Linked DNA regions of Homo sapiens: regions 1, 3 and 4 are each linked to region 2. The links come from fine-mapping of genetic effects on gene expression. A gene starts in region 2. Each other region holds a variant in brackets. All regions are shown on one strand. Distances are between the middles of the regions.

Evidence for each region.
Region 1: its variant is fine-mapped to the expression of GGACT in whole blood (INTERVAL, PIP 0.92).
Region 3: its variant is fine-mapped to the expression of GGACT in whole blood (TOPMed, PIP above 0.99).
Region 4: its variant is fine-mapped to the expression of GGACT in whole blood (TOPMed, PIP above 0.99).

What each region holds. Positions count from the first base shown.
Region 1 is chr13:100,561,143-100,569,248 of GRCh38, forward strand. The region is part of intron 2 of GGACT (gamma-glutamylamine cyclotransferase); the gene reads right to left. Among named protein-coding and RNA genes, the nearest start is that of GGACT, 24 kb to the right of the region's middle. The variant G/C (reference allele first, on the strand shown) is at 4,953.
Region 2 is chr13:100,584,190-100,592,295 of GRCh38, forward strand. GGACT (gamma-glutamylamine cyclotransferase) reads right to left here and starts at 4,600. Exons shown (of 3, transcript NM_001195087.2): 1 at 4,552-4,600. RefSeq lists a silencer at 4,233-4,752.
Region 3 is chr13:100,496,678-100,504,783 of GRCh38, forward strand. All of the region lies in intron 21 of PCCA (propionyl-CoA carboxylase subunit alpha), which reads left to right. Among named protein-coding and RNA genes, the nearest start is that of PCCA-AS1, 20 kb to the left of the region's middle. RefSeq lists an enhancer at 5,816-6,453. The variant T/A (reference allele first, on the strand shown) is at 4,550.
Region 4 is chr13:100,521,332-100,529,437 of GRCh38, forward strand. It overlaps PCCA (propionyl-CoA carboxylase subunit alpha), which reads left to right. Exons shown (of 24, transcript NM_000282.4): 23 at 6,344-6,421. Among named protein-coding and RNA genes, the nearest start is that of PCCA-AS1, 44 kb to the left of the region's middle. RefSeq lists an enhancer at 3,781-4,303. The variant A/G (reference allele first, on the strand shown) is at 4,881.

The DNA of each region.
Region 1 (8,106 bases), 23 kb before region 2:
TCTCCATTTCAGTATTTCCAGCTCCATTGCTATTATTTTACCAATGATTATCTACAAGCTTTCCTTGAACGTTGTGTTATATTTCATTTTGGTTATCATTTTCTGGTATAAGCAACACTTCCATATTAGGAACAGCCCCAGAGAGCTGCTTACATCTGACTTGGTAATGGTGGTGAACTGTATGGTATGTGAATTATTTCTCAATAAAGCATTAAAATAATGCAATTCTGTATAGATCCATAGCAAACAAAAATAACACTGAAATGGTTTCTATCATAAAGTTAATAGTTGATGGATGAAGATGGTAAGCCCTGCCTCCTGCCTCTTCACCCCGATTTTGAGCTATCTTAATGCAGTGTCTTCCCACAGAAGGCTTTCCTGGACATGTGGCCTTGTCTTACCTGGGGCTATTAACACCAGGATGAGATTCTGAAATGTGCAGTGCTGGCTAAACACCCAGCAAGTGGTACTGGTTCCCTTCTCAGATCAAGAGAATGCTATCTTCAGAAGATGTGTGCAGCAGACATTCCTGTACTTAGAAGAACCCAGCAGTGGGAGGGCCCGGGATGCCCTTCACACCTCCAACCCAGGACCCTGGAGGGGCAGAGGTGCTGCTCAGTGGGGGGCTGGGGCTCACGACCTTGGCAAATGACTGAACCTCTCATCCTGGATCTCCTTCTCTGTCCAGTGAGACCCTGGCACTTCCCAGAGTGGGGGAGTGGGATCCCCTGGGAGTATACAAGTGCCCAGCATGGGTGGGTTCAAGCAATGACAGTTGTTTTGAATGAAATAAAACAAATAGGAAATCATTAACTCTGCTCAAAGGTCATGCGGCAGAGTCTGCATGCCCCGGAGGAGGCTGTGCCCAACAGTGGGTTCGAAAGGACCAGATTCCAGGCAGCTCCTGGGTGACTCACTTTGCCTCACTGGGGTTTAGGTGCCTCTAAATAGGGACAGAAACTCTTACCTTGCCTACCTCGCAAGCTTCAACCTAAAGCTCAAATTACTGGAAGTACACAGAAGTTGTGAAATTTTATTCTTCTATAAAACGGCAAGCCCCTGTCCACTGCCTGTGTGGACCCCGACAGAAACTACCCTAGATATTCTCTACAACTAAGCTCGGTGAAGGGCTAAGACTTGATTTCCATTTTCATAAATACACCTTAGTTTTGCACAGAAAAAAAAATTTTTCCTTGCACAAACACCATTTTCTTCAAACCTGGCACCAGCAAGGATCATGCCTGGCACCTCACGCAGTACCTGTGATTCACCAAATATACTTCACCCACCTTCACAGCACTCAGAGGACACTGGGACAGACAGCACAGGCAACTCACCCAAAGTCACACCACTGGTAAGAGAGGCACATGAGGCCAGGTGTGGTGGCTCACGCCTGTAATTCCAACACTTTGGGAGGCCAAGGCAGGCAGATCACCTGAGGTCACGAGTTTGAGACCAGCCCAGCCAACATAGTAAAACCCCGTCTCTACTAAAAATACAAAAATTAGCCAGGCATGGTGGTGCATGCCGGTAATCCCAGCTACTTGGGAGGCTGAGGCACGAGAATCACTTGAACCCAGGAGGCGGAGGTTGCAGTGAGCTGAGATCACGCGACTGCACTCCAGCCTGGGCAACACAGCGAGACAATGTCTCAAAAAAAAAAAAAGAAAAAAAAGAAAAGAAAAAAGAAAAGGCACAGCCTTAAACTTGGGTGGTTTCTTGACTCCAGAGTTCAAACTCCTAACAACCCCAAAAAAAGAGCTCCCGTTCCCCTGCCTGGGCCCCCACTGCCATGTGCTAAAAAAGAAAGCAAGTCAAAGCGTTACTTGCCTTGAATTGCAAGCAGACTCCACACAATCTTACTTATATAAATCAAGCCAAGCAGAGGCTTCCAGAGAAACCAACCCTGCCGGCCCCTGATCTTGGACTTCTGAACCACTAGAACTGTGAGAAAGTTCTGTTGTTGAAGCCACCCGGTCTGTGGCACTTGGTTGTAGCAACCCTAGTGAATGAATGCACTGATGGATGCTGCCCCACGATCAATCTGCAAATATTATCCTCACTCAGAGGGGCCAGACACATGGGGCACATGTGACATGCATCCACTGATCCAGAACACCCAGCACGGGTAAAGCCACAGTGACAGGTAGGGGGATGGGGGCTGCCAGGGGCTCGGGATGGAAGAATGGGAGGGATGCTTAGTGTGGAAGAGGTTTCTTTCTTTTGGGGTGAGGAAAATGTTCTGGAACTAGACAGAAGTTGTAATCACATAACATTATGTACTAAATAATCATGGAATCCTTCACTTTTAAATGGTTTTCTGTTCTGTGAATTTTATCTCAATAAAAAAACCTCTAAATTAAAAGTAAATAAATCTTTTAAAGTGGTCCAAGCTGGGCATGGTGGCACATGCTTGTAGTCCTGGCTACTCGGGAGGCCAAGGTAGGAGGATCACTTGAGCCTAGGAGTTTGAGTCCAGCCTGAGCAACACAGTTAAGACCCTGTCTTTACATTAATTAATTAAACTAAACTTTAAAAGATGATACAGATAAAATCTACTATTAGAATATGATGTGTGGAATGCCACAGTGAAGGGTTTGTTCAGCATGTCATAAGGAACAGGAAAGAGAAGAATGAATTTTGTGTGGGTGACTTGGATGCAGCCCCCAACAGGTTGGGCACTGCCCCTGGAGGAGGGTAAAAACCATGCTGGAAAGAGGGGAAAGGAGGAGGTGGGTGCCTTCCAGGCAAGGAGCGTGAGCCCAGGCGTGTGCAGGGAACAGAGATTTGGAACCCCTGGGGGCCTGTGGGCTACTGGGAACCAAAAGACAGGGACTGGGTGGAGGGAAGCCTGGGGCAGTCTCGGTGCCTGTGGCCACCCTGGGCTGGACCTGCGGCTGGGGCTCCCCACGCCTGTTGAGTTCCCAAAATGCATGTGAAGCTTCAACGCTGATGTTCTAGGTCCCTCGCAAGAGAGTTGGATTTAGTAATTTAGGAGCTGGGGGCAGGAATCTACATTTCAAATAAAATACAGTATTTTTCAAAGCTCTCCAGGCGATTCTGGTGATTACCCTTTGGGAAAATCATTGATTGTGGGAAGGGTCTATCTGTTTTACAGTGATGCTCTCGAACTACTAACTTTTAGATTAAAGAGGATTCATGATGCTCTGTATACTTTAAAAACAGAGAAGGGGCACTCCTTCATTTTCACAGGTTTTCCTAAAAAAGACTTACATTCAACCTTCACCTACATGGCAAGTTCAAAGAACCAGAAGAGCTAATTTTCCAAGTATTAAAGATTGAAGATTTGTATAAACATCTTTTTTAAAAAAATTATCCAAGTTATACAAAAAGGAAAACAAAATATGTGAAAATGAAGATAATACAAAAAGCCTTAGAATAACTAACAGGTAGCCCTTCCAAGTTTAGTACACATTCACCCTTTAAATTTCTTATCATTCTATTTAACTACGAGACTGTTGCCTAAATAACGCTGAGTACACATTTTCTAAGAGCATTATGTTTTTACTTTCATGATTCAAGGTCGACCGAAGTACAAATATTAAGCCACAGGAATGGCCATTTGAAAAGTGTGGAAATAAATTACATTTTTTACTTTCAACACCTGGTGTCACCAGCATCATGCAGTACCCAGCTCTGAGTGCTCTATGCCCCGGGCAGGGGGCGGGGGGGCTGGGCCTGAACCCAGCAGAAGCCAGGCCTTTATGGGGGAGGGAAGCCCAAGGCCCAGGTCACCCTTCCAGAAACAGCATTTTAACCACACTCCAGACCGCTACTATTCCCAGGGAACATACAGGTTTAAAGGGAGGTTGTGATGTTTGTTTTTAACTTCAAGCACAATGATGCAAGGAAAAGCCTGTTGTGATACAGACCTGGTATGCTCTCCCTGTAGTATTTCACAGGGGATGGCCGCCGCCTCCTTCCCAATCTTTGACCTTGTTCCCACTGCGTATGTGGCTCTACTCTAAGAATTCACGGTTCGTCTTGTTTAGAGCGGCTTGGTGAGATGAAAAATCTAAAATCTCAGGGAAAACTTCATTCTTTAAAATAATTTGTGCTCAGATCAGAGTTCAAAAAACTGGGAGATTTCAAAAGGAAAGACACAATCCTTTAACCATCATGCTGAAAGATCAGAGTGTCAAAAGGGATTAGTTGGTATTTTAAAGCCTGGTCCAGTCAACCTACCTGACAACGTTAACAGCTTTCATTTGCACATCTGACTCCTGACAGTCAAGGCAAAGTAGTGCTTACGAGACGTAACTGAAAAAATAACAGCCCTGATATTTCACAACTTTAAAACGTGGTGCTGGTGACACCAGGTGTTTGAAACGAGGTCGCTGCCTTGTAGCTTTCACAGCAAAAGGATTCTGCAAAAGCATCTCTGCAGAAGCTGGTTTCTAACCACTCAGGTTAACCCCCCTTTCCTCCCCAGCTGCTTGAGCAGTGTTTTACGTTGATGATGACGCCCATTTCTTCTTCCCCACTCAATTCTGTCCTCTGTGATCCTCTCCCAAATAGTTTCACTGCTGCTCCCCCTCAGAGCTAGAGTGATACCTCCAACATGCATGCCTGGATGTGCCCCTGCCTGTCCAGCTGTGGGGACTTCTGTGTGGCAAGCAGACTCTCACATGGCACCCACCAAGCCCATGCCTGGCATCCCTGTCCCTGTGTGATTCCTGCCCCTCCAAGCATGGGTTTAGTGACTGACAGCCAACAAACACAATCCAGAGGAAGTGATGGGATTCAGTTATAAAAAGACTGCGGCTTCTGTCCTGGGAGCTCTCTGCCGCTCTCAGATCCCCTACTGTGAAGGAAGCCAGCTGCCATGCTATGAGCATTTCCATGGAGATGCCACGTAGAGAAGAAGTGAGGTCTCCACCAACAGTCAGAAAGGACCAAGGCATGCCAGCTGTCAGGGAAGTGAGCTCCAG[G/C]TCTCCCCAAGTCAAGCCTGGAGAAGGCCACAGTGCAGCCAGCACCTGAGTGCAGCCTGTGACAGACCCAAGTCAGAATCACACAGCTAAGCCACTCTTAGATCCTGAGCCACAGAAACTGTGGGATAATTTTTGTTGTTTTCAGTCACTAATTTTGGGGGTGATTTGTTCCTCAGCAGTGGATAAGTCCAGAGGGCCAATCCAAATGTCTTCACGTGCTCACAAAGGCCAGTTGCCGCTCAGCCATGCCTCACACTGCCTGTGGTACTTTCTTTGCTTTCTCGGTTGCTACTGCCTTTCAGGCCCTTCACACTCTTCACTCCTCAGCACTCTGCCTGGCAAAATCCTCCTTGTGCTTCCAGGTTACTTCAAACACCATCCTTCTGGTACCATGTCTCTCACCGTGAGCCCTAGAGGCAGAACTGACCCTGGGACACTGCTGCCCTTTGCCCCTGGCCTTGCGGCTGCCGAGGTCCCCTTTACCAGATCCCTGGGGGCCCGGGCACCAGCAACTCATGCTCCTCGGCTCTCAGCCCTGGTAACTGGGTGGGTAGGTATTTAAGAAGTGTCTGCTCAGGGAGTAAACCACTGGTTAGTTGCCAACCTGATGCCCTTTATCCCTGAACACAGTCATGTCTGTTTCCCACAAAGACATCTGATCTCACTACACTACAACCTGTGACATCAGGGCATCAGCATTTGTGACTAAGTTTACCACCTTCTCGCAGACAGTTTGAACTTTTTCCAACTGTCCTGATAACGTGCTTTACAGCAAAAGGGCCCAGTGCACAATCCCAATTGCATGTAGCTATGTCCTTTAGCCTCCTTCCATCTGGAACAATTCCTGCCTGTCTTTGGCATTCACGATCCTTTAAAGATTGCAGGCCATTGATTTGGTTGAATGTCCCTGAATTTGGTTTTGTCTGATGCTGTCTCCTGATTAGATTCGGATGGTATATCTTGAGCAGGAATCTTTCCGAAATGATGCTATGTTCTTCTCACTGCCTCCTATCAGACACCATATGATTTCAACTTGCTCCATTATTGATGACATTCACTCTGATCACTTAAGGTGGTGACTGCCAGGCTTCTCCACAGAGAAGTTACTCTTTTGCCCTTTATAGTTAAGCATTTTATGAAGAGGGATTTTGAAACCATGCAACATCTCATTCACCATCAAACCTGCCACTTGTTCATTTATTTATTTGTATCTACATGGACTTATGGTTTCCTATTATATTCAATGCTATCATTATTTCTTTTGATGCTTACATTGTCCCCTTTTGGACAGATGGGGTGAATTCCAGCAAGCTTCTCTGTCCCCTTGGCCCATCTTCCTCATTATTCCATTGCTTTCTGGTTCAAGATGTTCCAGGCTCATCTTAGACTTTCCCTGTCCCAGCCCTGGCATCAGCCCTCTCTCCAAGGAGCTCTTGTTCTCTTGTAGCAAATGGTATTTAGATGCCAAGATCTGGGTGCAGGGTGTGCTGTCTTTGGGCTGCATCTGTCCACAACCCCTGCGCCAGCAGAATATATGCCTGTATCCACATATAAACATACACACACGCACACTTACATTCACTTCTTTACACCTTTACATCTATGTTCACTTCTATATCTGTCTACACTTATTGAAAACCATGAATTCACACAAACACACACAACCCAAAGCATATCACAGGATTCATTCCAGTTTTCTGCATTTCTGTATTAATAACTCTCTTCTTTGACACTGGGAAACCTGGCTCCCACTAGCCTGAATGCAGTTATGTATCTGACTGATCCTTCTATGTGTTAACTAATTTCTAATCTCAGGTACCACCATCTTCCCTCACAAGACAAAAAAGGCTGGTGGAGCTCTAGCCATAATGTCACATTCAAAGGAGGTGGCATGAGGCAGGGCAGGTGAAGAACCAGGGCCCTACTTCCAATTGAATCGGGTTCCTTTTCAAAACCTCCCTGGAAGCCCCACACATTTCTGCTTACCTCTCATTCACCATAACTAGGCACATGGGTCACTGAATAAAACAGGACCAGTAATTAAGAAAGAAGAGAATGGATATTTGGTTGCAATCAGCAATTTCTACCAATCCCACTTTTTATATTTATTGGCCAACATCCTGCTGTCAGGGGTTACTGAAGACCTTGTATTAGTCTGTTCTCATGCTGCTAATAAAGACACCCAAGACTGGGTAATTTATAAAAGAAAGAGGTTTAATTGATTTACATTCAGCATAGCTGAGGAGGCCTCAGGAAACTTACAACCATGGCAGAAGGGGAACCAAACATGTCCTTCTTCACAAGGCAGTGGCATCAAGGAGAAGAATGAGTGCCCAGTGAAGGGGCAAGCCCCTTATAAAAGCATCAGATTTTGTGAGAACTAACTCACTATCACGAGAACAGGATAGGAGAAACCATCCCCCATGATTCAATTATCTCCACCAGGTGCCTCCCATGACACGTCAGGATTATGGGAACTACAATTCAAGATGAGATTTGGAACTACAATTTAAGATGAGCCAAACCATAACATCCCACTGCTGGCCCCTCCCAAATCATATGTCTTCACAATTCAAAACACAATCATGCCCTCCCAACAGTCCCTCAGTCTTAACTCATTCCAGCGTTAGCTCAAAAGTGAAGTCCAAAGTCTCATCTGATACAAAGCAAGTCCCCTCTGCCCATGAGCCCACAAAATCAAAATCAAGTTAGTTACTTCTTACATACAATGAAGGTACAGCCATTGGATAAATAAACCCATTCCAAATGGGATAAATTGGCCAAAACAAAGGGGCTACAGGCCCCATGCAAGTCTGAAATCCAATAGGGCAATCATTAAATCTTAAAGTTCCAAAATGATCTCCTTTGACTCCATGTTTCACATCCAGGGCATGCTGATGCAAGAGGTGGGCTCTCATGGCCTTGGGCAGCTCCGCCCCTATGGCTTTGCAGGGTACAGCCTCCCTCCCAGCTGCCTTCACAGACTGGCATTGAGTGTCTGCTGCTTTTCCAGGTGCACGGTGCAAGCCATTGGTGGTTCCACCACTCTGGAGTGTGAAGGACCCTTTTCCCACAGCTCTACTAGGCAGTGCCCCAGTGGGGACTCTGTGTGGGGGCTTCAACCCCAAATTTCCCTTCTGCACTGCCCTAGCAG
Region 2 (8,106 bases):
TGCCTTGAATAGAGGAACCTTCCCAGTGACCTAGAGAAAGGGTTCAAAGTTCTCAAGACCTCCTTGACAAAATGTGGTACATATACACAATGAAGTACTATTCAGCCATTAAAAAGGAGATCCTGTCATTTGCAACAATATGGTGCAGCCGGAGGTCGTTATGTGACGTGAAATAACCCAGACACAGAAAGACAAACTTTGCATGTTCTTACTCATTTGTGGGAGCCAAAAATTAAAACAATTGAACTGACTGAGATAGAGATCAGAATGATGGTTACCAGAGGCTAGGAAGGGTAGTAGGGGGGTTGGGGGAAAGCAGAGATGGTTAATGGGTACAAAAACACAGAAAGCAGGAATAAGATCTAGTATTTGATAGCACAACAGGGTGACTATAGTCAGTAATAATGTAACTATACATTTAAAAATAACTAAGAGTATCGTTAGATTGTAACACAAAAGATAAATGCTTGAGGTGATGGATACCCCATTTACCCTGATGTGATTATTACACATTGTATCTCATATACCTTGTAATGAGGGTTTATTATTACACATTGTATCTCATATACACCTATTACTAGGTACCCACAAAAATTAACTATCAAAAAAGAACTATTTGAGAAATAACAGCTCTATATACTCTCCTACAAATAAGAAAAGTAAAAAGAAAAAGAAAAAATGTCTTCTCAGCCATCAGGCAAAGCCAATTTTAGTAATGCTGAGCTCCTATTTTGGTAATGTTGAGCTTCTTTGATTCTTTGATGAGGGTTTCCAAGTCTTTAAAGTCAGATAAATTTAGATTTAAAAAAAGTCAAACCACTTCTGAAGTAGACTTGCCAAAAATGGCAAGCATGAACCTAATTAAGCCTCTAGATCTAACTTCTAGTTTACAGGAAATATAGGGGATAGAGAAGCAAGCCAAACCACACTCCACGAAAAGCAGCCCAACAGATCCAGAGTGTGAGGCACCCTACAGGCAATCAACCAAGTAACATCGACAGTCATTGGTATTGAGGAAACCCGCCAAGGCTGCTCTAGACTTGGGTCGGCAAACCACAGCCTGCGGGTAAGTCCAGCCTGTGGGTGGATTTTAAAACACAAAAGCTTTGGAAATTAAGTATTATTGGAACACAGCCATGCTTATCCATTTACTATCACCCCTGGCTACTTCTGCATGACGATGGCAGAGCTGAGCAGTTGTGGCAGAGACCATAGGGCCTGCAAAGCCTGAAAGAGCTGGTATCTGGCTCTTCACAGAGACATCTGCCACCCCTGCCCTAGATTGAAAGGGGCAACAGCTGAGCACGGTGGCTCACGGCTGTAATCGCAGCACTTTGGGAGGCAGAGGCAGGTGGATCACTTGAGTTCAGGAGCTCCAGACCAGTGTGGCCAACATGGTGAAACCCCGTCTCTACTAAAAATACAAAAATTAGTTGGGTGTGGTGGCATGCGCCTGTAGTCCCAGCTACTTGGGAGGCTGAGGCATGAGAATCACTTGAACCCAGGAGGCGGAGGTTGCAGTGAGCCAAGATTGTGCCACTGCACTCCAGCCTGGGTGACAAGAGTGAGTGAGACTCCGTCTCAGGAAGGAAAAAAAAAAAAAAGACCAGCCTGGGCAATACCTGTCTCCACCAAAAAAAAAAAAAAAAAAAAAAAAAAAAAAAAATAGCTGGGCATTGTGGCACATGCCTGTAATCCCAACTACTCAGGAGGCTGAGGTGGGAGGATGGCTTGAATCCAGGAGTTCGAGGTTACAGTGAGCCATGATCTCAGCAGAGCTGGTTCCTGTCTCAAAAAATAAAATAAAATAAAAAGGTAACAGTCAACAAATTCTTGTCTGGATGTGGATTCAAACAAACCAACAGTAAAAATAAGTTCATTTTTGAGGTGATCAGGGAAATCTGATCATGGACTAGGTTTTAGAAAATGTTAAGGAATTATTGTCAATTTCATCAGGAGGTGATAATTGTATTATGGTTACACAAGCAAATGCCCTTTCTCTGGAGAAACATACTGAACAATTTAGGGGTGAAGTGTTATGTTGTCTGGAATAAACTGCTTTAAACTGCTTCAGCCACAACCAAAAAAAGAAAAAAAAAGATGAAGTGGATATGGCCAAACAAGACTTGTGAAGTCCATTTGATGGATATATGGAAATTCATTCTACTTTGCTGGGCTTTTATGTTTGCTTAAAATTTTCCCAATAAGCAAAACAAACAAACAAACAAAATCAGAACCTTGATCAAAATGTAGAGGTTATCACTGGAGAGCCTTGCTTTCCAGGCACCCCCACCCCCGACCCCACCCCTCCTCTCGCGGAGTCCAGCCTCAGCACGCCAGTTGTTCACCTTTGTCTGAACACACTGTCATTTTCAGCTTCTTATTTTTGCTCATGGTGTTGGCCACCCTTTCCATTCCTGTGCCTATAAAAATCTGTTCTCTGCTTAAGGTCTCCCCAACTGTGACCTTCTCCTGGCCCTCCAGTGAGCACTCACCTCTCAGTTCCAACAGCACACTGCCTCTGGTTTCATTCTTCGCTACGTTCTAGCTATTTACCAGGTCTGTTACCTCATGATGCCATACAATCCCAGAGACTTCCAATAGCTAAGTCTTTTCTGTAAATCCATTTAAGGGGGTATCACGATGCCTTTTACGGAGCAAGCTCCGCAGTCCAGGGGCAGGTCCTCACGGCCTAAACACGGCTGCCTTATCCTGAGTAGTTTTACTGACAATAGAGCTTCAACTGAAGAATGAATTCCTGTTCAGCAGGACACTGGGCAGTCATGTTTAATTGAGAACTCTTAAAATTCCTAATAGAGTTTGCCTAGATGGAGGATGTTCTAAAGAGGGCTGCGAATATTTCGTGTTTCTGTCCTCTTACTGTCACCTTTCCTTGGGTCCTGTCCCCTCTTCAAGCATGGCTGCACTACACTTCCACACCAGCCTGCTGGTGTCCTAATCACTGGTAAGGGCCCTGGCTCGAGGTGGATACAAAGCCTCCCAATGACTTCACTTCAAGAATGGACACAGATTGGAAATCTTACTAGTAAAGAGAGAAATGAACAGATCATTTTAAAATCCCTCTTCTATTCTGCTTACTGCTACCTACTATCCAGATCACCACAAACAACCACCCTCTCCTAACTAGTAGTAGTTAGGGCCTGGTTAGTAAAATCAACTAGCCCAAAGTATTTCCGTACAAAAATCCACCAATTAGAAATTAATTTAACTTTGCAAACTCAGCTTTTACAATACGAATCTCTGCTAGAACACAGTGGTCTGCTTATTCAGGGAAGTCTGGCTTCTTCTGGGAATAGTTTCAGGAAAACAAGGCATTTTGGGAAAATACGGGCAAACTGCAGGTGCTCTTCATCTGAGCATTTCAATAAATTGAATGAGGCCAGGGAAAAGTCTTCACTTACAGGTAAATGTACATAAGGACACCTACGTGTGTGTAAGACCTACACTTTAAATAGGTCACCTTTAGTTTTTCATTAATCATTTCTCCTGGGACATTTAGCAAAACGAATAACTTGCTTTTAAAAAAGGCCACAAATCCCGGGTGCAGTGGCTCATGCCTGTAATCCCAACATTTTGGGAGGCCAAGGCGGGCGGATCACGGGGTCAGGAGTTCGAGACCAGCCTGGCCAACATGGTGAAACCCTGTCTCTACTAAAAACACAAAAATAAGCTGGGCGTGATAGCAGGCGCCTGTAATCCCAGCTACCCGGGAGACTGAGGCAGGAGAATCGCTTGAACCCGGAAGGCAGAGGTTGCAGTGAGCCGAGATCGCGCCACTGCACTCCAGCCTGGGCAACAGGGCAAGACTTCATCCCAAACAATAAAAAGGGCCAGAAATCGACTGCATTTTCTTATCACTTAAATATTAAATCAACTAAGCGTGGAGTTAAGAAGCTGTGTTCAAAAAACACTTAAGTCTGCTTTTGAGCTTGTGGCGTTGTCCTTGGCCCACAGAGTAAAACAGCAATGATAACCATAATTAATAATCAAGGCAGTAAATTTCTTCAAAATTTCAGAAGTTTCACTAATGGCTCCAAAGAAACCTTAGATCAGAAATTCACAAGTGCCAGGAGACGTTTTTAGATTTCTTTTGCAGCTTCTAGTCTCCTTACAAACAGGAAATCTTTAAAATGAAAAACAATTTCTGAGAAGTGTTAGCCCGGTTCAGCTGAGGTCCTCTGAAAGCCAGCGTGTGGGCTGTCACGCTTCCTTTACAGGGAAGCAGCGCCCGTGCGTGAGGCGGTTCCTGGCTTTTACCGCCCTCTGCCCGTTCTGGCAATCGCGCCCGTGGCCCCCGCGCGGGGCAATGGAGGACGCGTTTCGGGGTCCACCGTCCCCTCCCTCCGGCTGGCCTCGCCGGCCGGCGGCGCCCCAGGCCTCCTCCCTCACCCGCGGGGACGCCGAGTGCTGCGGCCTCGACCCGGACGCCGCGCAGGGAGCGACGCCCCAGGTTCCCGCGGGCGCCAGGACACCCCGCCTGGGGGGCGGAGCAGGCGCAGCCCCGACCCCCGCCCGGGCTCAGCGCCTCACCTGCCGGCAGCCGGGGCTGTCGGGGAGGGCAGGGCCAGGGCGGAAATGCAGGGCCGGGCCCGCGCCTCTGCTCCCAGGCCGCCCCCGGCGGCGCCCCCTGCAGGCGGAACGCGAGGCCCGCCAGCCCCTGCGGCGCCCTCGCACACACGTGGCCGCTCGCACAACTGGCCGCCTAACAGCCAGACCCACCCACGCCGATGCCCGCCGGAGACGCCCCGCCGCAGACACAGCGCAACCAGCTTCACACACCTGGGGACGCCCCACAGAAGTCACATCCACCCTAACACACCTGGGCACTCAGGCTCAAGCCCCGACTGCATGGTGGACCCTGACACACCTGGGCCACACCCCACAAAACAGACTCACAGACGACTCCACAAGCTTGGGGACACGCCACATCAAATGGACACACATGCACACACAAATGAACCCAAGCGCAGACACACTTGGGGATGCCAACCATGTGTGTATCTATCACATCACACACCACCAAGGCCCCCCAGCTGGGCATGCACACAGCCCTGATACCGAGTCCAGACCGCCATCTAGTCACACTGCCCACTTACTTACCAATACTCTTAAAATGAAACTGTGGCCGAAGGAGACAATGGAAGGATGACATCACCTCTTCCCTAGCTCCAGGACTAATTTAAGCCCCAGAAATTATAGGACTGAGAACCAAAATCGAAAGAGAACATTTTCCCTAGAGACAATGGGTTAAAGCAATGCCACTTGGGGGCCAGGTGGTAGGAATGGTACAGCTATGGAGAGAGTGACACTTCTGTCTCTCCGAAAGACACAAATCTGTGTTTATCAGATTAGCAATAATCCCCCTTAATCATTTCCTGCCCTTTCTACTTTCTCATGGATGTGGACTGATTGAAACCTTTATATAAACTGGTTTTTATCCAAACGTTTCCAACAATGCAGATGTAATTGTATTTTGAACAGATGTACAATTCCAAAAGAAATCTAAACCATCAGGTACATAAGTCGTTGGTTTTCACAGTTTTTTCTTGTCTTGGACACTTCATAATTAAATTGAAATGTATTAAAAAACCTTGTCTAGCTCATATTAATATTTTTTTTTTTTTTTTTTTTTTTTTTGAGACGGAGTCTCGCTCTGTCGCCTAGGCTGGAGTGCAGTGGCGGGATCTGGTTCACTGCAAGCTCCGCCTCCCGGGTTCACGCCATTCTCCTGCCTCAGCCTCCCAAGTAGCTGGGACTACAGGCGCCCGCCACTACGCCCGGCTAATTTTTTGTATGTTTAGTAGAGACGGGGTTTCACCATTTTAGCCAGGATGGTCTCGATCTCCTGACCTCGTGATCCGCCTGCCTCGGCCTCCCAAAGTGCTGGGATTACAGGCGTGAGCCACCGCGCCCGGCCTCATATTAATATTTTTAAAGACAGCAGTAATTCTTAACTTTTTGAAGCGAAAGAATGATTCCACTTTCATCTCTTTTTTGAGGGGGGAAAATCATGTCAGCAAAGGAAAGTGAGACAAATAGATAAATAATTCTTCTGATAAAGGAAAATTAAAGATGACGCAGACTAGACGAATTTTTTGTTTGTTTTGAGATGGGTTCTCACTCTGTCACCTAGGTTGGAGTACAGTAGCATGTTATTGGCTCATTGCAACCCCTGTTTCCCAGGCTCGAGTGATCCTCCCACCTCAGCCTTCTGAGTAGCTGGGACCTCAGGCACCCACCATCACGCCCGGCTAGTTTCTTGTATTTTTTGGTAGAGACAGGATTTCACCATGTTGCCCAGGGTGGTCTTGAACTCCTGAGCTCAGGCGATCCACCCGCCTTGGCCTCCCAAAGCGATGGGATTACAGGTATGAGCCACAGTGCCTAGCCAAGACAAGTGTTAAGTTGCATCCCAGATAAGGCTGGGGAAGCCCAATCTAACATAGAATAGGCTCTGTGGGATGAAGCCTTCAGTTTAACTTCTTGGAAAACAACTCACAGTTTGAAGAGCAGTTTTTGAAATGTGGTCCCAGTCCAGCAGCACTGGCAGCACCTGGGTATTTAGAAATGCACAATCTCCAGCCACACTGGAGGTGTCCTGACTCTGGGGGTCAACTCAGTGTCAGCAAGTCTGGGGGTGGGGCCCAGAGATGGACATTCTAATGAGTGATGCCAGTTCAAGTTTGAAAACCATCGCCTTTTGAGGATGTACCTCGGTGCTTCTCAAACTTTAACGTGCACGTCAGTCAACCCAGGGTCTTGTTTTAAAATGTAGATTCTGGTTCAGCTAGCCAGGAGTAGGGTCTAAGATTCTGCAGGTGGACAGAGGGTGCTAAGTGAAGATTTTCTTGTGTATAGACACACTCCAGGGTGCTGTCACTGTGAAGACAGCTCCACAGCAAAGCTTGGGTCTCATAGAGATAAAACTCACAAAGTGCCTCAAGGAAATAGACTGGTCAATCTAAGCAGGTCCCGGGCTTGTCAGTTTAGGGTTGGTCAGTTATTCAGGATCCCTTGGCAAGCCAACTGCTCTGGTAGCTTTTAGGAACTGGGTCGACTCACCAAGTCTGTTTGGTTGTGTCCAAATGGTACAATTGAGTCATTCACTGCAAAGGGTTCAGCTGCTCATTCTGGCCCCTTTGCTCTGCCTTTTTACAAACTCTCACATCCTCTAGGCTTAGGGTCATGCAGTCAGCAAATCACTATGCACCTGTATTAGTCTGTTCTTGCATTGCTATAAAGAGCTACCTGAGACTTGGTAATTTATAAAGAAAAGAGGTTTGACTCACAGTTCCACAGGCTGTACAGGAAGCATGGCTGGGGAAGCCTCAGGAAACTTACGATTATGGCAGAAGGTGAAGAGGAAAGAGTCACATCTTAAATTCTTAAACAGCCAGAGAAGGAGAAAGAGAGAGCAAAGGAGGAGGTGCCACAGAGTTTTAAACAGCCAGATCTTGTGAGATCTCACTCACTATCACGAGAACAGCCAGGGGGAAATCTGCCCCCATGATTCAATCACTTCCCACCAGGCCCTTCCCTGACACCCGGGATTACAATTCAGCGTGAGATTCAGGTGGGGACACAGACCCAAATCATATCAGCACCTGTTCAAAGCTCAGCAAACATTTTCCTTATCAACTACAAGGATTTAAACCAGCAAATTGTCTTTAACCAGAATTAACCAGTTTGGCATTTGTATTTGCCTAAATCAGAGCAGGTAATTGCTGAGCTCTGTTTTCCAGACCTGGGTGTAATAGATGTCTAATTTATATTCCTATTTAACTAAATACATTACTACTTAATATTATGCAAACGAGGCCAGCCTCCTCTGGGTGTTTCTCTCCTGCGTGCCTCCAGCATTGCAAGTAACGTCCAATAGAGGGGAAGATATCCCCTAAGTCTCTTGAAACTCTAGCTATAATGTGAGGTAAACAACCAAAAGGAGGGCTATATAAGGAGCTTGAAGTCCAACTGAATAACACCATAAAATCTACTGAAATATTACCAAATTATTTCAGTAAACCATTTAATAATCATCTTTGGGCCTAAAGAGCCTGCAGACTAAATCCAACCTGGTTGTCTATG
Region 3 (8,106 bases), 88 kb before region 2:
TAAGCTGGTAATTTCAGCATAATATGGTGAGTGTTAAACAGACAGCCAGGGTGCCTTGGGAGCCAGTAAGTAGATGTCACCCAACCTGGTAGCTCAGGGAAGGCTTCTGGAGTTGATGACACCTCAACTGTGACTTAAGGTAATGATTATGAGTCAGCCAAGCCAAGGAAAATGGGGAGGATACTGTAGAAGGACATGATACCATGAACACAGCCATGGAGCCACGAAACTTCATGGTGTGTTCAGGTCGCTACAGTGGCTGGCAGCTTGAGTTCTAGGATGGAGTTCGGAAGATGTCACGGAATCCCAGTATGGCAGTACAAGTGCACTTGTTCTCACGGGAGGCTGGAAGCAAAGGCTGTGCTCCTTGTTCCTCAAAAGCTCTAGGGTCTCTTTTGTCTCTTAATTCCATAGTTCTCTCTCCCCTAATTAACACAGAGCTAAAAATAGCAGAGAAATGGGGAATTGGGGGGAAGATTATAGTCAAAGAAGTTTCATCACAGGATGCACAGTTAATTTGGTTGCACTGGAAATTGGTTTCCTTCTCTTAGAAAATAAAAATCATCTTTGCAAAAAATTGTCACTTCTTTTTCTTTCACTTTTTTGAGGGTGAAAATTAGTGAAAAATGAAAATATGAACAAGTTGTGCAAATAAAACTAAAAAGTCACCGAATTTGGCTTTGAAGTATGCATCTGAGAAGCCTACTATTCTTTGGCTTGAATGAGAAGTGTAAGTTGTGGAATGGTAAAGCAGTGTAGCCTCTTTGACACCCAGCCAATTTAATTTTTTTTTTTTTTTTTAATTTTAGTGGCAGTAAGTACTGACTTACCAAGGCTTGGGGTAGCAGATACTATCACAGCTGCCAGGACTTTTCCAGGCTCCTGTCAAGAAACTGCTGCAATTCTGCAAGAGTCTTCAGATTAAATTCATGCCAAGTCATTTCCTCTGTTCTTCTACCAGTGAGGTCACCTTTGCAGCTGACCATTAGTGATGCTGTCAGCAAGAAAAGGATTATGAACTGAGGTCTAAATTTCAGTGATGTCTAGGCAAAAATAAATGTTCAAAAGAATTTAGCGAGGTTTCCAAGACCTGGTAAATTTCTCCCTAAGAGAAATTGCCAGATTTGTGGGCTCTTGATTTTAGCCTGAAGAATCACATTCTTCAGCACTGGAAGTTTTTCCTTCTTTTTTTACTTTTCTTTTTTTTTAGACACAGGGTCTCACTCTGTCACCCAGGCTGGAGTGCAGTGGCAGGATCATAACTTACTGTAAACTTCGAACTACCGGGCTCAGTTGATCCTCCTGCCTCAGCCTCATGAGTAGCTAGGATTACAGATATGTGCCACTACACCTGGCTAACCTGTTTTTTTGTAGAGACAAGGTCTTGCTATATTGCCCAGGCTGGTCTCAAACTTCTGGCCTCAAAGTAATCCTCTCACCTCAGCCTCCCAAAGTGCTGAGATTACAGGCGTGAGCCACCACACCCAGCCCAACATTGGAAGTTGTCATAGTTATCGCCAGTTGCCTCTCTTTTTGTCTGGAGATGTGTAGGTTAGCCAAAAAAAAAAAAAAAAATTACCGATTTTTTTTTATTTTTTCATTCACAAATATTGAATGTCTTCTCTATGTACCAGATACTATTATGCTCTCTCATGGAGGTTAGTACTGTCTACTGGAGAAGACATACCAAAAACAAGAGAGAGAGAAAGAGGAAAGCCACAAATCAGTTGGAAACACGCCCGTATTAGTGACTGAAGAGCCTGCAAATGAAAGCTTTACAAATTCATATGGCCAAATAGATTTCCTTGCTCCTTGAGTTAAAATTCACATAACACAATTAACCATTAGCTAAGTTAAAACATACAATTCAGTGCATTTATTAACGTTCACAACGCTGTACAACCATCATCTCTCTCCAGTTCCAAGACGATTCATCACCCCAAAAGGAAACCCCATTTCCATTAAGTGATCACTCCCTATTCCCCCACCTCCCCCAGCAACCCCTAGCCTACTGTTTGCGTGTGACTTCTTCCACTCAGTATAACACTTCTGAGGTTCATCCACACTGGAGCATGTGTCTGGTCTTTGTAGGTTTATTCCACTACCAACCATGTTCTTTATGCTTAAAATAACTCCTCCCTATTGAACTGTTTTGGAGTGATATTTCCTGGGGTGGAGGTAGTTTAATGATTCATCTCTGTCTTGTTAGCATGCTTGTTTATGGTAGAGAGAAATTTTGTATTCTGCCACCATACCTTGTCAAAACCTTTTAACAAGGCATTGATTTGGTTCTCTGGTTCTGAGAACTTGGCAGTGGAAGACAAGACTTCCACCCGCATTGCAAGCAAAATCATTGATGTCAATTCACGTTATTGTGGAAAACCGTGAGTTGTGACAAGTGAAAGCTTTTCACCAAGCCACAAAACTATGGGCGTGTGCAGTCAACACACGGAACACAAGGGGTTTGCTTCCGTGGCTCAGCATAGCACTCTCTCACTAGTTCTAAAATATTCATAGCCTTTGCTGTTCCCAAAAGACGTTTGAAAAATAAGACTTCTCCTTTGTCAGCATCCGCGCTCACATAACTGGTGAAACTAGGAGATAGTTTTGTATCCCGGAAGATAATCATTGTTCCATTCAGGTGTTGGGCAGAGAGAAATGGCTTATCTGCACATCTGCAGGATGTAAGAGATTAGTGAAATATTTGTGATTCTGATGTTGATGACTTTTAATGTTTGACAGAGAAACTTTTGCAATTATTTTCTTCTGGTCCAGGCCTCACTCCTTCTAGCCCACATGGCTCTAGTCAACCTCCTTTAATCAGCAGAGTAATAGGCAAGACTGTAGTAGGATGCCTCAAGACAGACTTTTATGTTGGGACAAGTAGTGTCTTATTAAGGCGGTTCCAGCCTTTCATATCCTGCCTCCTTGGGATAAAGAGTGTTTGTTTACAGAGCTTCTGGGATAGACTGCTGCATGCTGCATCCGTACCTCTGTTGCAGAAGCACATCTGTCCCATTATGTCTAGTGACAAAAATAAGACCTACGCCTCAGTGAACTTTGCATACATCTGAATGTAAGCAAGACAAGTATATTTGACATTTTAAAAAGGTTTTTTCTTTCACAGTTTTCAAAATAACATAGGAGAAGCAAAGGAAAAAATATTTCTTGTGTTTCTAATTCACAGGTTGCTTGAGACTTTTTTTGGAGGTGCTAGCATTTTATTGGCCACAGTTTTGAAGGAAAATACAATGAAATCATGCTTCTGTCGTTTGGGGAAAAGGAATAACAGATTCATTTTTTCTTTTTTTAAAGATGAGAGAGATAGTATTTGGAATCTATCTTTAGACTATTCTACCTCTGAATCTAATTGAAGTAAGAAATTGGGCAAGAATGGAATCTTACTTACCACCCAGGAAAAAAGCTAAACAATTGTGGCTCAGTCCATTTTCCCCTGAGACTGTCTTCAGATTGAGGCGATCAGTGTTAAAATGGATGGAATCACCAGGCTCTCCACATTCTAGTAAGATTGTAGTACGGTTGAAAGTCAAATGAAAGTCCAGCTCTTCAGTGTGTCATTTCCTCTTGCAGACACCAGACCAAGGGCAGTGGTGGTCTGGCGCTTATATTTTGTTATTATTTGTTGAGACCAGAACTCTCCTTAAGGATATATTTATATATGTTTTAATATTAAAGTTTCTTTTCAAGGAATTTATACTAATTAGTTCATGTAATAATAACATGTGCATTCCATTTAAAGTTACCTTGCTAAATTTTCTAAGACTTGTTAGCTTCCCCATAGTTTTTAATAAACCAAAAGATCAAACGAACAGTCCCCAGTTGCCCAAATATTGAGCAGTTAAGGCTGGTTTCAGCTCATCTGAAATCTGTAAACATTTAAAGAGAACCTCTCTCCCAGAAGATAGTGAGCACGGTGGTATTCTCCAGTCTCAGAATATTAAGGTTACTTACAGACTAGAGAGGCCTTCAGTCTATATTAACGAGTTCCTTTCCTAATCTCACCCTTCTAAGAATATATTTGATCCAATTTAGGGACAGCAACATTGAGGCCAGAGAAAAATTAATGGGGTAGTAACTGTAGACACCAAAACACTCCCCAAATCTTGAGACATCAAATAAGCAAGACTGAATTTATGCAAAAGATACTTTAAAGATGTTTCTTTAGCTGGGCGCAGTGGCTCACGCCTGTAATCCCAGCACTTTGGGAGGCCGAGGCGGGTAGATCACAAGGTCACGAGTTTGAGACCAGCCTGGCCAATATGGTGAAACCCCGTTTCTACTAAAAATACAAAAATTAGCCGGGTGTGGTGGTGGGTGCCTGTAGTCCCAGCTACTCGGGAGGCTGAGGCAGGACAATTGCTTGAACCTGGGAGGCGGAGGTTGCAGTGAGCCAAGATCGCCAAGATCATGCCACTGCATTCCAACCTGAGCAACAGAGTGAGACTCTTAAAAAAAAGAAAAAATGTGTCACTCAGAGATTTTTCTACCTAGAACAAGAGTCATACATACTTTTTGAAATTATTTTATC[T/A]ATGTAAACTTACGAGGTACAAGTGTAAATTTGTGACATGCATAGATTGAATAGAGAGGAAGTCAAGGCTTTTAGATATTCATCACCTGACTAATGTACATGGTACCCATTAAGTAATTTCTCATCATCCACCCTCCTCCCACCCCGTCACCCTTCTGAGTCTCCATTGTCTACTATCAGAAAAGCCTTCTCCAGCAGCGCATTGTCAGCTGAGTCTAGGAGAAGAAAGCCTTCTCATGGACATGAGCTAAATTCCCTGGGAAAGGCCATTCCATAATGGAGAAGGCCTTCTGTTCACCCACAGTGTGGTCCTCAGACCAGCAGCTTCAGCGTCTCCTGGGAACTCACTAGAAATGCAGACCCCAGGCCCAGTGTGGCAGCTCACGCCTGTAATCCCAGCACTTTGGGAGGCCGAGGCGGGTGGCTCACGAGGTCAGGAGTTTGAGGCCAGCCTGGCCAACATAGTGAAACCCCGTCTCTACTAAAAATACAAAAAAATTAGCCGGGCATGGTGGCGCATACCTGTAATCCCAGCTACTTGGGAGGCTGAGGCAGGAAAATCACTTGAACCCGGGTGGCGGAGGTTGGGCTGAGCTGAGATCGTGCCGCTGCACTCCAGCCTGGGCAACAGAGGGACACTCCTTCTCAATAAATAAATAAATAAATAAATAAATAAAATGCACCCAAACCTGAATTGGAAACTCAGGTGGGGGGCCTAGCGGTCTGTGGTTTTACTAGCCCTCCAGGCAAGTTTTGATGCTTTGGTGATTGAGAACTGCTGCTTATGCTGTCTTGGTGGAGAGCACTTCAGCCAGTGCCTCTTCTGCTGATTCTGTATTTATCAAAGAACCACTGACTATAATTTAGTGCTCACACTACAGTTAGGAGGTGTGTGAGTTCCCTTTACAAACCTATTTCTGATTGTAAATTCCTAAGATGTTTTACACATCAGTATCTTGTGAGCTTGATAAAAGTGAATCCATCTCGTTCAGAGTGATGCATTATGAGTGTATAGTGGAAGTCTAGCTTCTAAGCCTGTGAAACAGAGGCCCAGCCCCCTGATCCAGGCAGATTTCACTAAGGTAGAGGCCAGGGTAGATGTCCCTGCTGAACGGGCACCCTCTCATCCCACCTCACCCTGGCTGTGTGTACTGTATATTTTTAACCAAGAGGAGAGCAGAGCGGCACAGAATGGCTGGTACTCAGTATTCCTGGTTTCTGGATTATACAGATGCAAGGGAAATGTCTCCTAGTCTTATTTCATGAGTTACTGTGTAGCATTATTGAATTGCAGTGGTAAGAGGGTTAGGTAGGCCTTTCTCATTTTTGATTAGACAGCTATCATTTACAAATTAGACCACAGGGAATCGACCTTAACTTCTGTGACTAAAGCTTTTGGCAGTTACTTTTGGCATTTCTGGCCCTCTAGACTTGAAAATGACTGAGTGGTTACAATTTACAAAGTTAAGAGAGCTTTCTGTTGATTGGTGTGAATGGTAGGATATGAGACAGACTCTTAGGAGTAAAGGACAGGGATTTAGGGAAAATCCTAGTGGAGTCACTGCAGCCAGGCAGAGTTGTCTGTTACATGCAGATAACAAGTCACGCTGTTGGGGTTAATTAGAAAAAGAGGAAACAAAGTTGAGAAAAGAAGAGGGAGGCAGAGCAGACGGCAGAGGACAGGAATTTTCAGTGCAGCGTTGGGAAAGGTTGTGGAAGCTGAGGCTGACGCAGACCTAGGGCGTTAAAGCTGTATTTACAGCTGGACCTTCTGATTCCTGGGGAGGAGGGGAGGCTGGATCGTGGGTAAGAGAGACTGGCAGGGCCAGTGGAGGATACTCTCCCACTGGAGTTGTCCAGTGGGAGTTGTCTGGAGTTGTCCTGGGCAGAGGCTGCCTGTTGACAGAGGCTCAGCACAGCCATGCTTAAGATAAGCTAGCTAAGCAGGTACGAGGAAAAATAATTTACCTGAAGTTCTTTCTGGCCGGGCGCAGTGGCTCACGCCTGTAATCCCAACACTTTGGGAGGCCGAGGTGGGTGGATCACCTGAGGTCGGGAGTTCAAGACCAGCCTGACCAACATGGAGAAACCCTGTCTCTACTAAAAATACAAAATTAGTTGGGTGTGGTGGCGCGTGCCTGTAATCCCAGCTACTCGGGAGGCTGAGGCAGGAGAATCACTTGAACCCAGGAGGTGGAGGTTGTGGTGAGCCGAGGTTGCGCCATTGCACTCCAGCCTGGGCAACAAGAGCGAAACTCCATCCCCCCCCAAAAAAGAAATTATAATAAAATAAAGTTTTTTCTGTATTAAACATCTTGTGTTTAAAAGTCTACAGTGAGTCAAGGATGTTGAATGGCCAAAGATCATAAATCTCTCCCTCTTTAAATGAGCTGTGGGCTGGGCACAGTGGCTTATGCCTGTAATCCCAACACTTTGGGAGGCTGAGGGGCATGGATCGCTTGAGCCTAGTAGTTCGAGACCAGCCTGGGCAACATGGCAAAACTCTGTCTTTACAAAAAATTTAAAAAAAAATTAGCCGGGCATGGTGGCATGTGCCTATGGTCTCAGCTACTTGGGAGACTGAGGTGGGAGGATCACATGGGCTGAGGAGGTTGAGGCTGCAGTGAGCTGTGATCACACTACTGCACTCCAGCCTGAGTGACAGAGTGAGATCCTCAATAATAAGCAGTCTTCAGTGTTTCATTTTACCCAGGCTAAATGTATTTGTAGTATACATATATGTTTATATTTTGATAGATTCATGTGAGTAAAAGATATACAATAAAAATTGACATTACCGAAGGGGAGTGGGATTAGATGTGAGAGGGTGGATTAGTAAATTGTTTTACACACCTCTTTACCATTGGACTTGTTACAATAAGCCTATAACTATTTTTAACTCCATAAAATACATTGTTTTATAAGAGCTGTCAAATTTCACTTGCTCAGTCCCCTGATTCTCATTTTCTTATAAAATCTCAGGTTCCTCAAATATGAATTCTTCTGCCATGAGAAATTAGCAACATAGTCTTAAAGTCTGGGGAAAGATTATAGTCAGATCCACATAGATAGGACAACGTTCCAAGTCGGGAGAATGTTCATATGAGAATTGAATAGAAGGCCAAATTTTTAGGCTAAGAATATGATCAGAGGACACTTCCAGTGGAGAGAGTCAGCGTGAAGAGTTGAGGTGCATGGCTGTTGTGCATCTGAGAGCGTGTACGCGGGCGTGAGAGCGATTTAGATCCCTGTGTGTTGAATTCGAGACCCACCCAGACAGCCTCCAGTGTCTTCTCAGTGACTGTGCCCAAGATTTCTGTCCATCTGTGGACATGTTTTAATGACAGCAATTAGTGGTAATGATGGCTATTAAATACTTAATGACATTTCTGTGTTCTGAGGCTTCTTCATACAAGAATTCACTTACTGGCCGGGCACCGTGGCTCACACCTGTAATCCCAGCACTTTGGGAGGCTGAGGTGGGCAGATCAAGAGGTCAAGAGATTGAGATCACCCTGGCTAACATGGTGAAACCCCATCTCTACTAAAAATACAAA
Region 4 (8,106 bases), 63 kb before region 2:
CGGGGCTGGACGGGTGGCCCCTGGGTTCCCGCGCCCTCCAGAGTGAGGCCGCTCGTGCATGGGCCATTAAAGGAGTCTTCAGCCGGAGAAAGGGCTGGGCGGCGTCTCCTGCCCGCCTGGTCTGTCTTTGTAATTTGATGATGGTTCCATCCTTGCTCAAATACTGCAGTCTCCCGTGGCCTCCTCCCCGTCTCGCTTTACATGAAGATGTTGGGATGTGAATACACGTTTCTTCTTCAGGAAATATCAGGGGATATTTACCAGCCTATCTTACCGGCTCAGAGGAAGTTGCTATTAATATAATCAGATGCGAGCAGGCAGTGCCTTTTCACTCAATCTGAGATGCCTTTTTTTGTGACTGTTAACTGAACCTTTCTTCAGATCTAAGGGCCTTAAAATGTGTGGCATTCAGGCACCTGTGTTCCAAGCAGACCAGCCTTTAACAATGAAATGGTGGGATTTTCACTTTTGTGGCGTAGACACCAGGGCTGATATTGATCCGTGTTTTTCCGGTGGTCCGGCGTTGCAGAAGTGGAAACTGCAGCGGGCTGGTAAGCCCTCCGAGCCTTCTGTCTAATTTGGCAGAAAAACACAGAATGTAGGACAACAAAAGAAGCCTCCTTTTTCCATAAAAATTCTTCCTCCCACCCACCCTTCTTCCCCAAAAAGGGGACTTAATTTTTCAGCTGCACGCAGTGATTTGGTGCTCACTCTTGCATCGAAACAGTTGCGGTCTGAACAGGCAGGAAACAGTTTTCTTTTAATTGCCGAAATCATTCGGAAGTGCTTCATGCCCTGCTTCTGTACAGCAGATGCTGTGCATTAATTGGCCTGCGTAGAAGTGACCCAGGGTTCCTTGCAGCGGGCCCAATTTTAGGCAGAGGGTTTAAATAGCTTATTTATTATTTTGTATAATCTGGCGTACATTGTGTGCTCCTGCACGTGTCGTATTTCATGGTCTGCAGTTTCTAATGTCATGTGGGTTTCAAAACCTGTGTTTCTCTGGTAATGTACTAGCAGCAGGTAAGCTCAAAATACCATCCATCAGGAGCTAATTTTTTATCCAGATACTCCAATGACTGATGAACCTGTCTTTTGTATGAATGTTTAGCACAGTGGAAAGCCATATGCCACTGGCACCGTTTCCTCTGCATTCCTTACAGTTGCTAGAGAGTGGGCTTCCTGGGGGGCGGGGCGGCTCGATGCTGTGAACGTCCCCTGGCCTCTATTTCAACGATAACACCTTTAAAACAGCCCTGGGTTTGGGCAACAAAAAGAGGATGGGCTGTCTTAAAGGAGACCTGACTCCCTCGTCATTTTCTTTATCAGAAATACGACTGCACACTCTTAATAGGGAACCTTGTTTTGTTACTCCCCGTCTGTTCCAAACAGACCTCAGCCCATTAGAAGGGCCTCCCTTGTGTGGGAGACCACAGCTGTTACTGTAAATCTCATCCACTCACTGTATCACCCCCATTTTGTGGCTCTGAAGGATGAAATTGAGAAATGGAATACTGTGCAGTCATCCTTTACATCTCCAATTTTAGGCCTTTGCCATCATTTTCATGCTTTTATTCCAAATCAAATAACATTAGTGAGCTACACCACCTTCTGATGAATATCTGGTCTTGAGCACCGCTTTCAAGCCTGTGCTTGTGGGGGCTTCCTTTTATGTTTGGTGGTCTTTTTTCCCCCGTTCTCTTCTTTTTCTTCCTGCACTTTCTTTGAGCGTTCTTCGTGGTCATGGCAGTCTGCAGTTTGAATGATCGGCATTGCCAAATGTGTCCCTGTCTTAGCATGTTTTCTGAGAGGGGGCATGTGCGGGAGAAGGTTCTCTGTCTTTTAATCTTTGTGGAAGGAGTGAAGAGAACTTGGTAGAAGGATATTGGGGGCTTTAATCAGAAATAAGAAGTGGTTTAAATCATTAGCACAACAAAGCATACTATAAGCTTGAAGATAAAAGTCTCTGGGGAAAGAGTCCTCTGAAAATAAATGGAACTTGATAGATTTCCATATCATTTATAACTTCCCTTAATTACACTTGGAAGACTTGCCAGTAAAACTGGAAAATTGGCAGCCTATATCCATTAGAGTCATTTTGCCGACCATGGCAAGCAGCTGGCTTTACGGGATTTGATTCCCATCACTCACAATTCATCATCAGCTGGAGGTGTCTGCAGCTCTTCAGCACAGAGCAATGCTGGGTGACACTCGGGCCCCCACGACATGCGAAAATCTGCTGAGTAAATGGGCCGAGGTTTCTCTCAAGCCTTGTTTGGGGCAAGGCCGACTCCTGCTTAATGAGTGCCGCTCTGATAATCGGATGCGAACGTGAACCTTGACCTCGTGTCAAAGGAGAGGACGCAATAAGCTGGATGAAAGATACAGGATTCAGGCCTTCAAACTTTACACCAATTAGACAGGGAGCGGGGAGATACATCAGGCCCACTAGGTTCATCAAAAAGACTTGTGAGGCTTGTGACCATTTTGTAAGCCCAACATTGGAGACATCCTGTCACAATCATTAAGTCTTTATCAGATGATTCACAAAAGTGTTGGAGAAACGTGCGCACACATCCTGCAGGAACGGGCCCCGCACATGGGGGCGTCTGATGGAGACGGAATGGTGGAGGGCCCTCTCTGTGCACCCAATTAATGCTTGGCTTCCCAGCCACCCTGGGCAATCCGGAAGGTGTTGCTTCCATTGGGCCCACTGCCCAGCTCCCTGGTGTACCCTACATGTACTCTACGGTGTGCGACACATTCTGCAGGAGTCAGCGCTGCTGGGAGCAAGGCTCCAAAGTCCTAAGGTGAGAGCCCCTGCTCCCAAGGGCCGAGTGCTGGCATTTTGCTGTTGTTGGAAGGAGCCCAGCTCAATGCCCAGCCATCCCTGGAGCACGCCCTCGAGTGTCAGCCTCTTCCCACAGACTGGGGCAGGTGTAGTTTGTGTTTCCATTGCATTCTTTGACATTTGGTTTGTACATTTGGTTCTCCAGCTCAATTTTTTCCAAAGGATGAAACATGTTGAAATTCAATTAAGCTCGTGTGTGTGTGTGTGTGTGTGTGTGTGTGTGTGTGTGTTGGGGTAGAACATGTTTCTGTTGAGCAAGATGTATCTCACTATTTTGTAAGGCATGAAGGAAGTTTTTAAACACCATCTCTTAGGGATGAATTAGGGAAAACGGTCTACAAAACAGATGGTGCAAAATTAATAGAGAAGTGTGCTACTTAGTTTTTCATTTACAGCTAAATAATCTAGGCTGGGCACAGTGGCACACATCTGTAACCCCAGCACTTTGGGAGGCCAAGGTGGGCGGATCACTTGAGGTCAGGAGTTTGAGACCAGCCTGGCCAATGTGGTAATACCCTATCTGTACTAAAAATACAAAAATTAGCTGGGCGTGGTGGTGCACACCTGTATTCCCAGCTACTCAGGAGGCTGAGGCAGAAGAATCGCTTGAACTTGGGAGGTAGAGGTTGCAGTGAGCTGAGATTGTGCCGCTGCACTCCAGCCTGGGCAACAGACCGAGATTCTGTCTCTAAGATAGATAGATAGATTAGATAGATTAGATTAGATTACATAAGATAGATAGATAGATAAAATAGATTAGATAGGATAGATAGGATAGACCGAGATTCTGTCTCTAAGATGGATAGATAGATAGATAGATAGATAGATAGATAGATAGATAGATAGACAGACAGACAGGCAGATAAGATAGATAGGATAGAGCTAAATAAGTAGACTAGTAGACACCACGAGAGGAACTAGGGAGGGGAAACAGGAATGAAAGGCGGATGGAGCAGGGAGGATCTAATTCTATGATTCAGTGCTGTGCTTGGATGGGGCAGAAGATGGGATCGCTTCAGTGGGGACACGCCTTCTTTAAAGTCCTTTGAATTGAATTGCCGGACTCTCACAATCAGACAGAAGGACTATTTGAATTTCAGGCCTCCCCACTTTTCCTGATTGTCTCGGGCTAAATCCGAGGTTTTTTTCTGATGAACAACTGGGGACCCAGCACTTGCAGTTACCTGTGCGTTACCTCTTTGCAAATCACCCACATTAGAAGCACAGAGCCAGCCAGAAAGATGGTCAGTGGCAGCCACAGCAGAGCCCCTTAAGCTCCTGTCCACCACCCACTTGCTCCCAGGCCCTGGCGGGGCCCAGAGTAGAGCTGTAGCCAGGTCAGGCTGGCCTTTGCCCCTAGCGTGACCTTGGGAAATCCCCAGGCCGCATTTCTTCATATTTGCAGTTGAGTTGCTAACGCACTCACTTGAAGATCCTGTAAAACAGAAGCAGGAGCTGCCTGCCTGTCTGGCCCGCAGATTCTGAGCAAGGGGATGGGAGGGGACGTGTGGTGGAAGGGCACACCTACTGGCAGAGAGGGTAGGGGCTGTGCCACCCATGTGAAGCCAATGTACTTGGCGGGGGGACGGGGCTCTGGCCAGTCCTGGGCCCTCAGATGCCTGCAGAGGAAGGGCTGGGTGGGTGTTTGGGAGGCCGGCATGCAGTCCCCAGGAAGCTCCTCCACCTGGAGAGAGAACAGTGCCCAGAGCGGGAGAGTGGATTCCTCATTTTTGGATGGCATTTCTACTATGTTCTGTTGAGTCTCAGATCCACTTCCCAGAGAGTCCCCGGTCCTGTTGCCTGAGTGCTCAGTCCTAGGTCAGAGTCAGTCGCAGTGAGTCCAGCTTCTAAGAGGACACGGCCAGGCTTCCAGGGTCCCCTGTGTGGAGCTGGCTGGCAGGTGTGCTGCAGTGAACTGGACCTGCTCCTGGATTCCCTGGTCTTTGCCTGCCTTTGAAGAGAGAAAAAAGGCTGTAAAATGCCAACTGGAGGGAGTGACTGTTCTGACACCCCTGATGGGGGCCTCTGC[A/G]TTGTCTCTGCGCTGCCCCTCCCATCCCCCTGCAAACAGCCCTCGAGGCTGATTCTTCGCTCTCCCTGGAATGCAGATGCCACGTGAAAATGAATCAAAAAGGGCAGCGCGGGCAGCGCTTCCAGGCCCAGCTCCTCAGCGCGGTGTCTCTCCTCCGTGCCAGCGCCAAAGCCTTGGCATCGTCTCTCTTCCTATATTTCTATGCCAGGAAGAAGCAGCCCACCACCTGAACAGCAGAGGAAAAGAGTACATCGGCTCAGGCGCTCCAGAGTGCCAGCAAGACAGCTTGCGCCACACGGGGGGGCCAGAGGGGGACTTGGAGATCATCTGGGGATTTCAGGAAAGAACATTCTCTAGGCGCTTCTGAGGCATTGGACGAATATGGCCACAGTGGTGTGAGGGGCCAGGAGCCCCATGCCAGGACACCCACCCACACCACATAGCCATTGCCCTAGGAACCTGGACTTGCCCGTTTCAAAGACTGGGAGGCCAAAGAAAAACCTGGCCGGCTCAGGACGCTGACCCATCGGGGCAGAGCGAAGTGAGTGCGCAGCATGGTTTTCAGCTGCAGCTCACTCCTGCAGGGAAGCCTCACGCTTAACGCCAGTGGGCTTAACCCAGCTCAGCCTGGCTGCCCCTCAGGATGAAAGGCAAGTTCTGAACGCAGTCTGAGCAAAGGCCCGTGGGCGCTCCCAGTCTCCTAGCATGGAATGCATGTAGCTCTGGAAGTCATTCCTGTGTCTGGAGGGTTTTCCGGAAGCTGCCTTGTGCCTTGTTGTGGGTACTCGCTGTGTCTTGCAGAGGATGGGACAGTGGTCCTCGTGGCGCCAGGGCCGAGCTGTTCCCAGTTCCCCGGGACTATAGACAGAAATATGTATATTTGGTGGTGGTTTTTTTTTTTTGGTAACAGCTATACTGAGATGTAATTCACATACAATTTAGCCCTTTAACGTGTACGATTCGGTGGTTTCAGTCAATTCAGAGTTGTGTAGTTGTCACCACAATCAATTTTGGAACATTTTTATCACTCTCAAAAGAAACCCTGTACCCTTCAGCAGTGACTCCCCTTCCCTCTTCAACCCCAGGCAACCTCGAGTCTGTCTGTAGAGATCTGCCTATTCTGGACATTTCAGGTAAGTGGAAAACATTCCAATTTCCGAACACCTCTGTTAGTGGCAGAGCCAGACTCAGAGATCCCCAGGGTAGGCCCCGCCGCCAGGGTCCCCACTTCTCCAGGGTCAGGGATTTTTTTTTTTTCCAACGAGGACTTTATGAGAGAGAGAATGGCTTTTCTCTACTGTTCCTAAAGATGAGCTTGGAATAGGAAACATTAGAGATTGTTGCTGCTGTTCATAGACACATATTTTGGGGCATTTGACAAAGAATTTCTTAATGGCTTCATTCCTAAGTGTTAATGCAAAATTAGAATGCTTTTAAAACTTCTGCCCATTTTTGTTTTCCAGGTAGCAGAAGGTCAAGAAATTTGTGTGATTGAAGCCATGAAAATGCAGAATAGTATGACAGCTGGGAAAACTGGCACGGTGAGTCCCTAAGTCCCCATCAGCCCAGGCCGGCCCTGTGATGGAGGAACGCCCACCTTTGAATCGTGGGTGGTTTGGCTGGAAAGGGCCACAGAGGCGCCCTCTCCCCCTCGCTTCTACAGAGGAGGACGTTAGGATTGGGAGCTTTTGCCATTCTGCCCTGATGCATCCCTGCCTCGTAGAGAGCGTGGCTTCCAAAAAGTCTGTGCTTTATGTTCAGGTAGTCAAAGAACAATTGTTCTTCACCTTAATGTCTTTCTTTCAAATTAAGGGGTCTTTAATTTTTAATGTTTACATCTGTCTTGAAGGCAGTTAGTTATCTGAGACTTAGGTGACACAGCAGCAAATGGTTTTACAAATTGCAAAAATTAATGTAACTCTTCAAGACAATTTCTCTACAAAGGGAACAATTCAGTTGCAGATCAAGAGAAGCCAAAACCCCATGTACATGTGGGACTTAATTATTTAGGGAGAAAAAAATATTAGTACTGAAATTCATTCATAGTGAAACTTAAGTGTATTTTTTTCTTGAAGATAGAAAAGTCCTTTTAAGCAGTAACTTCATTATTCTTCCTGTGACTAAAAAGACTGAAAAGATGCCGTTAGTAGGTAAATGATCCTTTTGTGAGGGCCGTTGTGGTTTGGAAGTGTCTGCATGGGAGAGCATGATGGGAAGCGCAAGGCTGGCCGTGTTCTGCATGTGGCCATGCCTTGGGGACATCAGGTGCAAAGAGAGATCCATCAGTTCATAACCAGGTTTGCATCAGAGAGACACACAACCTCTGTCTCATGCTCTGTCACTGCAGAAGGCAATGAAATGGATTCTCAGAGAAGGGGCAGCGGGGATGTCATGCCTGGTCCCGGCTGGGAGAACAGAGGCCCAGGTGTATGCCAGGGGCTCCTGAGCCCAGCCCGCCGGTCTGGAGGGGTGTGGACAGTTGCACTGTGCTGGTATGGTGTGAAGAGTAGAATGACATGATTTGTGGCGTTTTTAAGGAATTCTTTCTAAATTACTTCTTTAAAAAGTGAACAAGAAAATGTTGGTTTCTGTTCATGTAAAAATTTTATCTGTTCTTTGGGATTTAACATTTGTGCTGCCCTAGTATCACGACATCCATCCATGATGAGAACTTGGCCTAGGTGTGGGGGACCGAGAACGTGTGTCCGCCGCATGCCAAGGGCCCTGTGCGGCAGGTCTGAGGTGCTAATGCAGAAATGACCTTGGCCTCATCAGTTCCCTGAAGGGGCATGGTGCCATGTGGTAGTAGGTTTCCTGTCCTCGTGGCCTGGGTCTCCCTCGGCCCTCCTAGTTGGAGTCTTCCTGTGCATTCTGTTCACCTCACCCCATCCCCAGGCCTCTCAGTTCCAACCCAGCCAAGAAGAGCAGAAGTGGCCCGAAGCCCCCGTGCAAAGTAGCAGGCCCTGGTTCCTACCTGCGAGGCCACTTTTCCTCCCAGAGAAAAAAAGTTCACAAAGGAAACAGATCCTCTACTCTGGTCATCGCTGCATCACTAACACTGCGTCCTCTAGTAGGGCTGCTAAATGGAGGCAGGAGCATTGTGGAAAGCAGCCTTTTCAGTCCAAGCAGCATCTGCAGTGGCCGATGAGTTCTAATCCATTTTTCATTTTCAGGCCCAAGCAAGAGCCTCCAAGAAGTCAAATGACTGTCTCTTCCCCACCTCAAG